2 linked regions of the Homo sapiens genome follow. The main gene of each other region encodes a partner of the protein of the gene in region 2 in a complex. Each region holds a gene or a part of one and is shown on either strand. Other genes may lie near its edges. A codon is read from its position in the direction of its gene.

The links. The genes of interacting proteins can lie anywhere in the genome.
Region 1: the proteins of SLC7A13 (region 2) and SLC3A1 are in contact, whole or in part, in a cryo-EM structure (PDB 8WK6), measured with the Homo sapiens proteins. Residues at the interface, in NP_620172.2 of Homo sapiens: Ile120, Phe123, Phe124, Pro125, Ser126, Cys127, Leu132, Pro133, Cys136, Leu137, Leu139, Ala140, Met141, Trp143, Ile147, Arg151, Lys187, Thr265 (codon at 2,619), Arg267 (codon at 2,613), Asp281, Arg282, Glu450, Cys454, Tyr455, Gln457, Leu458, Leu459, Phe460, Asn461, Ile462; in NP_000332.2 of Homo sapiens: Pro64, Tyr65, Ala66, Gly67, Met68, Pro69, Lys70, Leu73, Phe76, Ser77, Arg81, Tyr82, Pro85, Arg86, Leu89, Phe90, Thr93, Ser96, Val97, Leu100, Ile101, Thr104, Ile107, Ile108, Ser111, Cys114, Leu115, Glu194, Asn195, Asp202.

What each region holds. Positions count from the first base shown.
Region 1 is NC_000002.12:44,306,479-44,313,507, reverse strand, and holds part of SLC3A1 (amino acid transporter heavy chain SLC3A1), read right to left. Parts: intron 923-7,029; coding exon 755-922; intron 1-754. UniProt on the Homo sapiens protein: Acts as a chaperone that facilitates biogenesis and trafficking of functional transporter heteromers to the plasma membrane.
Region 2 is NC_000008.11:86,220,378-86,227,406, forward strand, and holds part of SLC7A13 (solute carrier family 7 member 13), read right to left. Parts: intron 2,727-7,029; coding exon 2,595-2,726; intron 1-2,594. UniProt on the Homo sapiens protein: Associates with SLC3A1/rBAT to form a functional heterodimeric complex that transports anionic and neutral amino acids across the apical plasma membrane of renal epithelium.

The DNA.
Region 1 (7,029 bases), on a different chromosome or scaffold from region 2:
TGGTACAGTGTTGGTGAATTTAAGAACACTGCCATGTACAAGTGAGTATGAATTCTGTCCTACTCGTTTATTCAGCCTGATTATTGCTCATGAGTGCACACACACAAATGTAGGAGCTGATAGAGGGAAAAAAGCTTCACCTTAATCAAATATTAGGGAAATTGGATCTCATATAGTTGAAAGCTAACTAGGCAATTAAAGTTGCAAGATAGTCGTCTACCCAGCAACACAATTCTGAAATCTGTAGCTACAAAATAAAAACTGCTTAACTCTGAGGCTGTGCACTGCACCTGATAACAGAAAAGAAAAGGGTCCTTGTGCTGTGGTCACCCAAGACCAAACAGGACAAATGAGAACTAAAGAAATAAGTGTTCCTAACTCCACATTTCAAGTAGAGGGAAATGAGTCATATTCTAAACTAAACCACCGGTTCTCCAATTTTAGTGTGCCTCTCAACACAGTATTCCTGGCAAAATAAATAAATAAATTTTAATGTGCCTATCAGGTAGAAAACATCTTTAAAATGCCCTACCCAAGAAACTTTTAGTTGTATGGCTCCAAAGCATTTTTAAAATAAGCTCTCAGACCACCAAGAAAGCTGAGAATTCTTACTAACAGTAAGAAAGAAAAGCAAAGTAACCATGATTTTCAGCAATGCAATAGAGAGATAGTAAGTTCTCTGATTTGGCAAAAAATAAAAAATGAATACTTGGTTTTATAGCTGTGATGAATAGTCAAGTTGTATTCAACTTACAATATCATAGCTTTCATTGAGATTTGCGGCTACAATATTTCCCATTCCAATTTCTTCTCCATAGTAAGTTATAGGAGTTCCAGGGAGTGTGAAAAGAAGCATGTTCATCACGTTGACATACTGATTCCCCAAACGCGAAGTCAGCCGTGAACTGTCTGGTCCACCAATCTGAAAGGCAGATATTTTTAAGAACACAGCTGTATACACAGTTTTCTGAAAGATTTACCCTATTTCACAGAAAGTTCACAACGTAGCAAAACAAAGTAGATGTGGTACCTTGGTACTAGCAAGCCTGGACTTGAGTCCTAGGCCTGCTATTTGCTGTGTAACTGACCAATTTATTATCTTGGCCACTGATGAGCAAGAAAAGGGTGATAAGAATTTATTGTACAATGATATTGCAAATAAAACTCAGAGGGTACATAGTCATATTTTCTCATATTTGGATAAGAGAATATTGACAGGAAAGGAAGCAAAACTGTGGCAGAGAGCAAGACAAGGGAACCCAGGTGAAAGGGACAGGCATGAGAGACTTCTGATGTGTCCTCTTTTAAAAAATTGTTTTGACTTATGAATTATTCAGACAAAATTTTTAAAGTAAATCAACTTTTAGAAAGAATTTACATACTCCAAGATGAAATTTTATAAAGTGTTTTCTATTTGTAAATATATTTCCATGTTAAACGTTCTAGGTATATTCTAGCCCTTATTTAAATAAGTTTGTTTAAATAAGAATTTATTTAAATCACCTGACAACTCTCTCCATAACCCACAACTCAAACCCTCATGTGCATACGCTGAGCATGGCACTTTACTTTTTAAAAAGTACTTTCACACCTATATTTCCCTCCTTCACACAACAGTGCTAGCAAGTACTATCTCCGTTTTACAAATGAGGAAACAAGCTCTGAGAAATTACATCATTTATTCAAGTAGTAGTCTAAGACAGAACTAGCGTTCGAACTTGAGTCTTAGGACAAGACTTAATTGCTACAATTCAAGAAATAGGAGGTTGGGTTTTTTTTTTTTTAACTTCCTTAGCTGTATGAAAATGATCTTTATAATTACGTTTTTATAGACCATTGTGAAGTATTTTTCTATGTTTATGGCCAGAAAATTAGGTCAATTTTTGCCTCCATCCTTTTATTCTTTTCACTGTCATGAGATCTTCTGACAAGAAACCCTTTGATTTCTCAAGACTTCTGGACATAGAGCACAACAAACACTGGGAAAGGAAGAATGTGATTTCCAGAATTGTCATACTACTTAAAATGTCCGGTTTTTAACAACAACAACAAATATACAAAACAGTCAAAGAAAACAGGAAAATATGGCTCATATAATGGTGGGGGGAGTCAATAGCAAATATTGCTTAGGAAGACCAAACATTGGACTTACTAGACAAAGATTTTAAACCAGCTAATATTTTGATATTCAAAGAAAAAACCTGTGCCTGAAGAATTTAAAGTATATGAACAGTTATCAAATAGATAAGAGAAATTATGAAAAAATAAAACTGTTAGAGTTAAAAAGTACAATAGCTAAAGTGAGACGTTTACTAGAGGGACTTGACAAATTTGAACTAGCAAAGGAATCAGAAAACTTGAAGACTCAATTGAGAGTATCTGGCCTGAGAACCAGAAAGAAAAAGAAGAATGAGGCCAGGCACTGTGGCTCCCACCTGTAATCCCAGTGCTTTGGGATGCCAAGGCAGGAAGATGCTTGAGCTCAGGAGTTCTAAACCAGCCTGGGCAACATGGTGAGACCCCATGTCTACAAAAAAATTAAAAATTTAGCCAGGCATGGTGGCATGCACCTGTAGTCTCAGCTACTCAAGAAGCTGAGATGGGAAAATTGAGCACAGGACATCAAGGTTGCAGTGAGCCATGTTTACACCACTGCACTCCAGCCTGGGCAACAGAGCAAAACCCTGTCTCAAAAAAAAAAACCAGACTCTCAGAGACCTGTGGGATACTATCATGCATACCAACATATGCATAATGGGAGTCTCAAAAGGAGAGAAGGAAGAGAAATGGTCAGAAACAATATTTAAAAAAAAAATAGCCAACAACTTCCCAAATTTGATTTTTTTAAAAATTGTGTATCTAAGAACCTCAATGAACTCCAAGTAGGACAAAATTTTTAAAAACCCACACTTAGACATATCAGTCAAACCGTTAAAAGACACAGAATCTTTAAAGGAGCAAAGAAAATTGGTACATCACATGTAAGGAGTCTCAATAAGATTAGCAACTGACTTCTTATCAGAAACCATGAAGGCCAGAGGGCAATGGGATGACATATTCAAAGTGATGAAAGAAAGAACTGTAAACCAAGATTTCTATATCCAGCAAAACTGTTATTCAATAATGAAAAAATGAGATACCACTTCATTTGTACTATGATGAGTATAATTTTTTAAATCAAGACAGAAAAGTGTTGGTGAGGATGAAAAGAAATTGGAACCTTCGTACATGGCTGATGGGAATGTAAAACGGAGAAGTCACTATGGAAAACAGTTTGGTAGTTCCTCAAAATCACAGAAGTACTATATGATCCAAGGCTGGGCACAGTGGCTCACACCTGTAATCCTAACACTTTAAGGGCCAAGGTGGGAAGATCACTTGAGCTCAGGAGTTCAAGACCAGCTTGGACAACATGGCAAAACCCCATCTCCACAAAAAATACAAAAATTATCCAGGTATGGTGGTATGCACCTATAGTCCCAGCTACTTTGTGGGAGCTAATGCAGGAGGATTGCTTGAGCCCAGGAGGTCAAGGCTGCAGTGAGCCATGTTCACACCACAGTGCTCCAGCCTAGGTGATGACAAAGTGAGACCCTGTCTCAAAAAAAAAGCCTGGGCACAGTGGCTTATGCCTGTAATCCCAGCACTTTGGGAGGCCAAGGCAGCAAATCACTTGAGGCCAGGAGTTCCAGACCAGCCTGGCCAACATGGTAAAACCCCATTTCTACTAAAAATACAAAAATTAGCCAGTCATGTTGGCACATGCCTGTAATCCAAGCTACACAGGAGGCTAAGGCATAAGAATTGCTTGAACCCAGAGGCAGAGGTTGCAGTGAGCCGAGATCATACCACTGCACTCTAGCCTGGGTGATACAGTGAGACTCCATCTCAAAAAACAAAACAAAAGAAGTATTATGTGATCCAGCAATTCCACTCCATGGTATAGATCCAAAAGAATTGAAATCTGGGGCTTAAACAGATACTTGTACACCATTGGTTTGTAACATTATTCCAACAGCCAAAAGGAGGCAAAACCACAAACGTCACCAACAGATGAATAGATAACGTGTTACATAGGTACCATGGAATGTTATTCAGTCATAAGAAGGAGTAAGATCTCATACATGCTATTGTATGTATGAAGGAAAGTTGAAAACATTAAGCTAAGTGAAATGAGGCAGACACAAAAGGACAAATATTGTTATGATTCCACTTATATGAGGTACCTAGAATAGGCAAATTTATAGAGGCTGAAAATAGAATGGAGGATATCAGGGGTTAGTGGTGGAAGTGAGGAATTATTGTTTAGTGGGTACAGATTTTCTGTTTGGGATGATAAAAGTTCTAGAAACTGATAATGGTGATGGTTGTACAACATTTTGAATGTATTTAATGCATTGAATTACACACTTTTGAATGTTTAAAATTGTTTTATGTATATTTTGCAATAATTTTAAAACAAAAAATTCCTCAGAAGGCCAGGCACAGTAGCTCACGCCTGTAATCCCAGCACTTTGGGAGGCTGAGGCAGGCAGATCATGAGGTCAGGAGACCGAGGCCATCTTGGCTAACACGGTGAAACCCCGTCTCTACTAAAAATACAAGAAGTTAGCCAGGCATGGTGGCAGGCACCTGTAGTCCCAGCTATTTGGGAGGCTGATACAGGAGAATGGCATGAACCCGGGAGGCGGAGCTTGCAATGAGCTGAGATCACACCACTGCACTCCAGCCTGGGCAACAGAGCAAGACTCTGCCTCAAATTAAAAAAAAAAAAATTCTTCAGGAATTCACAATAAACTATTAGAAACGAAAAACAAGTTCAGCAATGTTTTAGGATACAAGATCAATATACACAAATCTATTGTATTTCTATACACTAATAATGAAGAATCCAATAATGAAATTAAGCAAACACTTCAGTTTACAATAATATCAAAAGAACAAAATACTTAGGAATAAACTGAACAAAAAGTCTAAGACTTGTACAATGAAAAATACAAAACATCATCAAAAGAAATTAAAGACCTAAATAAGATACATCTGTCTTCATGGATTAGAAGACAAGATGGCATGATTGCCAAAAATGATAAACAGATTCAATGCAATCCCTATCAAAATCCCAGTTGGCTATTCTAAAATTTATATGGAAATCCTAAAATTCACATGGAAATATAAGGTACCCAGAACAGCTAAAACAATCTTGAAAAATAACAAAGTTGGAGGACCCATACTTCTCTATGTCAAAACTTACTAAGCTACACTAATCAACTCAGGGTGTTCAGGCATAGAGACAGACATATAGATGAACAGAACTGAGAGTCTGGAAATCTAATCAACTGATTTTCTTTTTTTTGTTTTGTTTTACATTTAGAGACGGGGTCTCACTCTGTCACCCAGGCTGGAGTTCACCCTGGAGTGTAATCATGGCTCAAGGCAAACTTGAACTCCTGGGCTCAACTCCCACCTCAGCCTCCCAAAGTGCTGGGATTTCAGATGTGAGCCACCACGCCCAGCCTACAATCAGTTGATTTTTCAACAAAGATTCCATGATAATCCAATGAAGCAAAGAATAGTCTTTTTAGCATGTGGTGCTGGAATAAATAGACCAGGCAATGGTTTCTAATATAACACTAAAAGTACAAGTAACAACAACAACAAAACAACTGGACTTCATAAAAATTAAAAACTTCTGTGCTTTTCAAGGGACACTATCAAGAAAGTGACATGAAAGCCCACAGAATGGGAGAAAATACTTGCAAATCACCTATCCAGTATATATCAGGAATTCTTACAACTAAACAATAAAAAGACAACCAAATTTAATTATAGGCAAAGAATCTGAACAGACATTACTCCAAATAAGACATGCAGATGTCCAATAAGCACATGAAAATACCCTCAACAAAATTAGCCATCAGGGAAATGCAAAAAAAAAAAAAAAAATGCAATGAGATAACAACTTGACACTCAGTAGGAAGGCCATCATCAGAAAGGCAGACCATCACAAGGCTTGATGAGATGTGGAAAAATTGGAACCCTCGTAACATTGCTGGTGGGAATGTAAAATGGAGTAACTACTTTGGAAAACAGTTTGGCAGTTCCTCAAATAGTTAAATGTAGACTTACCATATGCCCAGTGGAGCAATTCCACTCCTGGATATATATCAGAGAGAATTGAAAACATGTTTTTATAAAAACTTGTACACAAATGTCCATAGCATCACTATTCGTAATAGTCCAAAAGTGAAAACAAATCTCTGTCAATTCATGATCAGATAAACAAAATGGGCTTTATGGAAGTTACTATTCAGCCATAAAAAGGAACGATGTACTGAGACATACTACAACATGGATAAACCTTGAAAACACTATGTTAAGTGAAAGAAGCTAGACACAAAAGTCCCATATCGTATAGCTCCATTTATATGAAATGCCCTGAATAGGCAAATCCATAGACACGGAAAGTAGGTGAGTGGTTGCCAGAGACTGAGGACAGAGAGGGAGGGGCCATGCGCAGTTATTGCTAGTGGAGATGTGGTTTATTTTGGGGGTGATGAAAATGCTCTGGAATGAGACATTGGTGATGGTTGCATAATTCTGTGAATATACCGAAAATCCACTTAATTATATACTTTAATAACGGTAAATTTTGGCTGGGCTCAGTGGCTCACACCTGTAATCCCAGCACTTTGGGAGGCCAAGATGGGTGGATCACCTGAGGTCAGGAGTTCGAGACCAGCCTGGCCAACATGATGAAACCCCGTGTCCCTACTAAAAATACAAAAAATTAGCTGGGTGTGGTGGTGGGCACCTGTAATCCCAGCTACTCTAAAGGCTGAGGCAGGAGAATTACTTGAACCCAGGAGGCAGAGGTTGAAGTGAGCCGGGATCACACCACTGCACCCCAGCCTGGGTAACGAGCAAAACTCCGTCTCAAAAAAAAAAAAAAAAAAAAAAGTTTTATGGTATGTGAATTATATCTCGACAAAGCTGTTATTTAAAAATTGTATAGTTTTAATACTTACATTT
Region 2 (7,029 bases):
CTTCTCAGTTGTGAAACTTATTCATAATAAAGGCTATTTTATTTCCTAAGAGAAAAATAGGTGAAGAAACAAGTCAGAGCTCTGACACGGACACAGACAAAAACATTACATGATTAATACCATTCTTTCTTTTTCTATCTAAACCACAAATATTAGAATCTAATATTTATCGCAGCCTGGTGTAATTCTTTCAATGTTCCTTAAATAAAATGTAGTATCCAATTCCTGCCACATCATGGATGCTCTATATTCATATGGAAACTTTTCATATTTTTTACATATACTTGTTTGATTGAAAAAAATGCATCCCTTAATCGTTAAAATTTCTTAATTTAAGAAACTATATTTGGGCCTAGTGGCTCACGTCTGTAACCCCAGCACTTTGAGAGGCCAAGAGGGAGAATCAGTTGAGGTCAGACCAGCCTGGCCAACATGACAAAACCCTATCTCTACTAAAAATACAAAAATTAGCCAGGTGTGGTGACCCATGCCTGTAATCCCAGCTACTCAAAAGGCTGAGGCACAAGAAGCGCTTGAACCTGGGAAGTGGAGGTTGCAGTGAGCAAGATTGTGCCACTGCACTCCAGCCTAGGCAACAGAGCAAGACTCTGTTTCAAAAAAAAAAAAAAAAACTATTTCTTTTGCTTATAACTTTCCCCCTTATTACACAAATTTTGCACTTTAAAGAAAATTTGGAATATTCAGTGCAAACAATAAAGTAAAAATCACATACAATATCATTCCCATTGATCACCATTGTTAACTACTTATTTACTGTTTTATATCATTATATACATCCTGACTTTTTCCTCATTATTGATTTAACATTGCCCCTTTTCTTCAAGTATCCATCAACAATATCATCTTTTACAAATCACAGAATGTTCTATTATATAGATTTCCCATAAATTTTTTATTTGTTTCAAGCTTATTGGATATTTTTATGGTTTTTAATTTTTTGCTATCATACATAAAGCTATGATTACTATACCTATACATACATTTTTCATGTATGACTGATTATTTTCTTAATTTAAATTTCTTGTACAATAAACACGCAGATATTTGGACTTAAAAAGATTAATTTAGAATTTTTTTTTATTATACTTTAAGTTTTAGGGTACATGTGCACATTGTGCAGGTTAGTTACATATGTATACGTGTGCCATGCTGGTGCGCTGCACCCACTAACTCGTCATCTAGCATTAGGTATATCTCCCAGTGCTATCCCTCCCCACTCCCCCCACCCCACCACAGTCCCCAGAATTTAAACAAAAAGTCTAAAGATGATATGCCTAAAAAAGTAAGCATTGTAGCCAAATTAAAAGTGATGATGGTCAAAACACTTCACGAGTCTTCCACACATGCCAAAATCATTGTGCCATCTACAAAATTGCTATAATCATTATTACACCGAAGGAGATATTCATGATTTTTTAACAACCCGTATGGACGGAGCACTGGTAGTCATAACAGACGCCAGCTTCAATGAACCGTAACAATGGTGCTAGCTGACCAGCAGCCCCAACCACACCCACAATTAACTTTGTAAATTTATTCTTTACATAATCAAGGTAGTTAATAAATCACTGCTTGTTCTGATCTGAATTTGCATTTGGTTTTTTCCCACAGACACTCAGAAGCTTGAATCCATCTAGTTTATAGGTCCCTAAGATAGCTAGACCATTATGAATCAGCACTGATACCATATGGCATCACCCTGCAGGGCAGTAACATAAGAATTGAGGCAAAGTTTACCAGAATTTTATATCAAAATCTCCCTTAGGTTTGCGTCCATGCCTCAAAGATTCACCAAACCAATAATAGCTGCTCAAAAGACATTAGTCCTAAAGGTACTGGGTGATAGGTTTATCTTGTGAGGTCGTTTAATGCTGGCTTGAGGAAATTACTAGTCTTCCACTTTCCCTGTTTCTCATTTCTTTCCAAATTTCTTTTTATTCGTTGATCTGTTACTCATTTTTCAATGTATATTTATTTAAAATTTTCTCATTCTTTTATTCTTTATTCTACAATTTGGTCTCTAAGATAGCTATTTTTTGGTCAGATTTCCAATATGTTCAGGACACTTTGCCACCATAAATTTTAGAGTTGTTCATGGTAAACCGTATTATTTTAACATCAATATTAATTATATGCATCAATTGAACATTAGCATCTACTCTTTTAACTGCCAATATTCTACACTTCGAATTGATCATTTTTTGTGACACCTAGAAAAACATTGAGACTCAAACATTTTGAAAGTTTTAAAATCGATGTAAACAGTGATTACTCAGTGTCACTCTAGTGAGATGAGATCATGAAAGGAATACTAATATTTTGAATCTGATCTACACCATACATCAACATTATATACATCTTTCCATATTATTAGAAAAGGCATAACCATGCTTAAAGATGAATCTCCTTTCTAAGACAAATCATTCCCTTTGGCCCTCTGTTATTTTAGAAAATTATAAGTTGATTCCATATATAGAATAATGAACAGTAAACAGTGGTTCTGACTGGTGAAATGATAGTTACGTTGAAAGGACCAGCACTTTATTTATTGCTTTAGCCATTTGCATACAAACCTGAAGAGAGAATTTCCCTGGGTGTCAGAACAGTCAGATAGGAAATGTTAACCAGTAAATAAACTACAGTCACCAGAGGTAACGCAGTAAATATGCATTTGGGAATTGTTGTTCTGGGCTTCTTCAGCTCCCCTATAACACAAAAGAGGACACAACCATAATTGGTAAACATTATTTCTAAAATTCATTATTTTTAGATTATTATTTTTGTATTTGTATAAATTAATGGGGTACAAGCATGATTTTATTATGTGGATAGGTTGTGTGGTGGTCAAATCAGAGTTTTAGTGTATCCATCACCTGAATAACATACATTGTACCTATTAAGTAATTTTTCATCATCCACCTGTCTACTCCCTCTCCCTTCCAAGTCTCTGTGGTTCATCATTTTACTCTCTACATCCATAAGTACACATTTTGTAGTTAATTATGAGTGAGAAGGTATAATATTTCTTTCTATTTTTGAGTTATTTCACTTAGGATGATGGTCTCCAGCTGCATTCATGTTGCTGAAAAAGACATGATTTCATTCTTTTTTATGGCTCTGTAATATTCTGTGGTATATTATACACACACACACTAGTGTTGTGATAAACATGAGTGCAGATGTCCTATTCATTTATTTTCTTTTGGGGAGATACCCAGTAGTGGGATTGTTGGATCAAATTGTAGTTCTATTTTTAATTCTTTGAGAAATCTCCATACTGTTTTCCATAGATATTATACTAATTTACATTCCCACCAACATTGCTCCATGTGTCAACAATTGGGCTAGGCTCTTCTTATTCATTCAGCCACCACCACTACACATACACTAAAATGCACACACACACACACACACACACACACTGGTGGACTGCTACACACCCACCTGCCTAATATAGCTAAATGAAGAAAAATATGAAATATGCTTCATTTTCTCCATAGATGGCAAAATTTCTGAAGATAGACTTAAGAATGAAAAATGAAATCGGAGCCCATAAGTCCTGTACCATTTGAAGCCCACTTATGTGTTTAGCCTCATCTATTAAGTCCTAGGCATTGAGTTTGGATAGTGGGAATACAATGGTGAGCAGAAACTACATGAAATTTGACCTCAAGAAGAAGAGCTACACATGAGTTAAATAATTGCATAAATAAAAGGTTAAAATACTAGTGACTATGGTAAGTGTCTATATGAAAAGAAACAAGGTGCTATGGAGATATATTATGTGACAATGTGACAGTTTCTCTTGCTATCTGTGTTTTATATATAGACTGACTGGCCTTTGCAGTTCCTCAACAATGTCCTATCCCTTCTTGCCATAGGGTCTACTCTCTTATGTGGAATGTTCTTTCCTAGTTGCCTAGTTGACCCTACCCTTCCTTCAGATCTCAGGAAAATAATTACTTCTGGGAAACTAGGAGAGGAAACTCTCTCCCTGGCTAGCAAAATTTTCCTATTATACATTTCTCATACTGTATATTGAAAGGAGTTAAAGAGCCCATCATAAATTATCTCTTCCTGTATGCTCTTGACCATTCCTTTATGCCAATATTAAGTGCAAAAAAAGGCCAAAAAAGTTGATATTTAGCATCATATAGAGTGGATTCTCTAGGACAGTTTTATTTTTAAATATTGTTCCATTCATCACACCATTTCCCCAAATTTTGTCCTACCCTGAGAATTGCTCTGTGGCATGAAGAAATGATCATCTATAACCTTAATATACAATGGCACCCTGTGCCCTGCCCAGTGGAAAGGAACAAAGAACAGACATCCGATCCACTGGAAGCCAATGATTTTCGGTATACAGGAAAATTTATCTCAAGAATTTGAAACAAAGTTCAAGAGAAAAGCAACGTAATGGTGTTAAAAAAGAAAGGAAGATGAGAAAATTTGTTTTTTTTTAATTTCTAGAACTTCCCTATTTTTTTCATATTTATTTATTTATTTTATAGAGACGGGGGTCTCGCTATGTTGCCTGGACTGGTCTTGAACTCCTGGCCTCAAGCAATCCTCCAGTCTAGGCCTCCCAAAGTGCAGATTAAAAACGTGAGTCACCATGTCCAGTCTGCTTCCCTATTTTTTGTTGCTTCCTAAGATGTGTTGCACAAATCTTCCTTAAAATATAGCATTATCCTTCCAGTAAGTTCCCCTTTTATTGTTTAAGTTAATGTATGTGGGTTTCTGCTACTTAAAACCAAATCCCCTTTACTAATAAATATCTATCATTTGACTATATCAAATTTCTTCCATCTGTGTCTGCCCAGGGGTTGGATCTAATGCCCATGGGGAACACTAATCTGAGCTGATTAAGAACTTGATTAGTAAAAAATTAGAAGGTTTTAATTTTAACCCTGCCCGCACCACTTTGGCTGTCAAGGTTTCAATCTCCTTATAGTGAAAACTGTAGGGACAACAAAATTCCAATCCTAGTGTTTAGCATATAATAAGTGCTGAATAAATGGTTGTTGTTAATTACTATAGTTATTAAAGCTTTGGGACAAACAAAAGGGCAATTTTTTGGATTATCTGTTCTTTCTTCTGAGCCTTTTACTTGTTCTCATTATGTACTTGATATGTAAAGAGGAGATGGAGATTACAATTTAATTTATAATAAAAAGTTATAATAGCCAGACAAGCGACAAATATCCTTGACTCTTGAACTTAAAAGATGGGTATTCCGGCCGGGTGTGGTGATTCACGTCTGTAAACCCAGCACTTTGGGAGGTCAAGGCAGGTGGATCACTGGAACCCAGAAGTTCAAGGCCAGTCTGAGCAACATGCCAAAACCTCGTCTCTACTAAAAATCCACACACAAAAAAACTTAGCTGGGCATGATGGTGAGTGCCTGTAGTCGCAGCTACTCAGGAGGCTGAGGTGAGAGAATCAATCAAGCCCAGAAGGTCAAGGCTGCAGTGAACTATGATTGCACAGCTGCACTCCAGCCTGGGTGATAAAAAATAGAATTTTTTTTTTAAAAAGATGGGTATTCCTACACCTTGCAAAGTCGCCTGTCTACAAGTCACTATTTTGCAGGTAAAAGGGTTACTTAAAACTTAGATGTACTTAAGACTTATTTTGTAAATTAACTCCAGCACACACTGAAATTCCTCCAACTTTTGTTCACCACTAGCGGCTTGTGAGGAACTCCATAATAGTTTATAGGTCAGTAAGAATAAATTCTGTAAGTATATTTTCAGCTGACAATAATTATCTAACAATGAAACATCTCTGCAATGGGATACAATGAAACTGGCTCAAATAAAAATCCAGAAATATTGCTTCTAGCCTTGAAAGCAAGAAACAATGAGATTTGCTCGTTATGCCAGCTGCTGAAATTGGCCCATTTAATCACAAGCCATGTAAAACAGTAATCTCCTCATAGCTTTCTTTTCTCAATACCTTATTTTTAACTCAATGCAAACTGACTTCCTCTCATGTTCAAAATTCACCAATGACTTCTTACATTATCAATGATGGCGCTCCAACCAGTCCTCATGATCCTTGACTTCTGAAGCATTTAACCAGATAGATTATTCCCCACTTTTTGAAACATATTGTGATTTTCCTCTATACCACTCTGAGCCTCCTCTGGCTTCCTCACTGAATCTTCTTTCTCTACCTCCTGCTTAAAAGTTGGCATTGTCCAGTCATCTGTCCCCCTCCAACCCTATGCCGTTTCATCCTTCGTCTCTATGTACTTGCCTTAGTAATCAATCCTATGTATTTTGTCCTTCGTCTCTCTATGTACTTGCCTTAATAATCGTATCTAATACCAAGACTCTCAGATGGAAACCATTTTGTAGTCACCTGAGGTTGCATGCCTTGTCTTATATCTACACTGCATGCTTCTATTCTCCACGGCTTCACTCATATTTTTCTGGAATTTTGTGGATTCAATTCAAATTGCCACTTTTCCACTCAGTGACAGCAAAAAGTGACCTTTCTATTGATTTCCAAGGTAATTATATTGTTCCGTTATGGCTATCTATTAAATACTGTATCAAATTATTTGTTTATAAGGCACAGAATTATAGTCATTTTAAACCATGATGTACATTTTGCAGATAATAAAAAAGAGGCTAGAAAGGAGAAAACACTTGCTATAGTTGGTAATGGCAGACCCAAATCTAGGTATTGCCTCTTCTACTAGACTGTAAGCCTTTTTGATAAAGACTATATCTTACTCATCTTGAGGCACCAGTACAGGGTTTTAAAAATAGTCTTTGAAAAGATAGTGGCTACTCAAATGATTTCACAAATGATAGATAAATTAGTGGTGGGGGACCTGAGATTAGAAAAAGTTTTGTTCAGTAGTTAAGAGTCTGATACATATATAAATAACAAGGAAAAGAACTGATTTTTTAGAAAAGATTGAAAGTGAGAAAAAATGAAATAAAAGAATGTGAAAAGTCCTTAAGGGGATGGGAGGGAAAAGATAAAGAATTC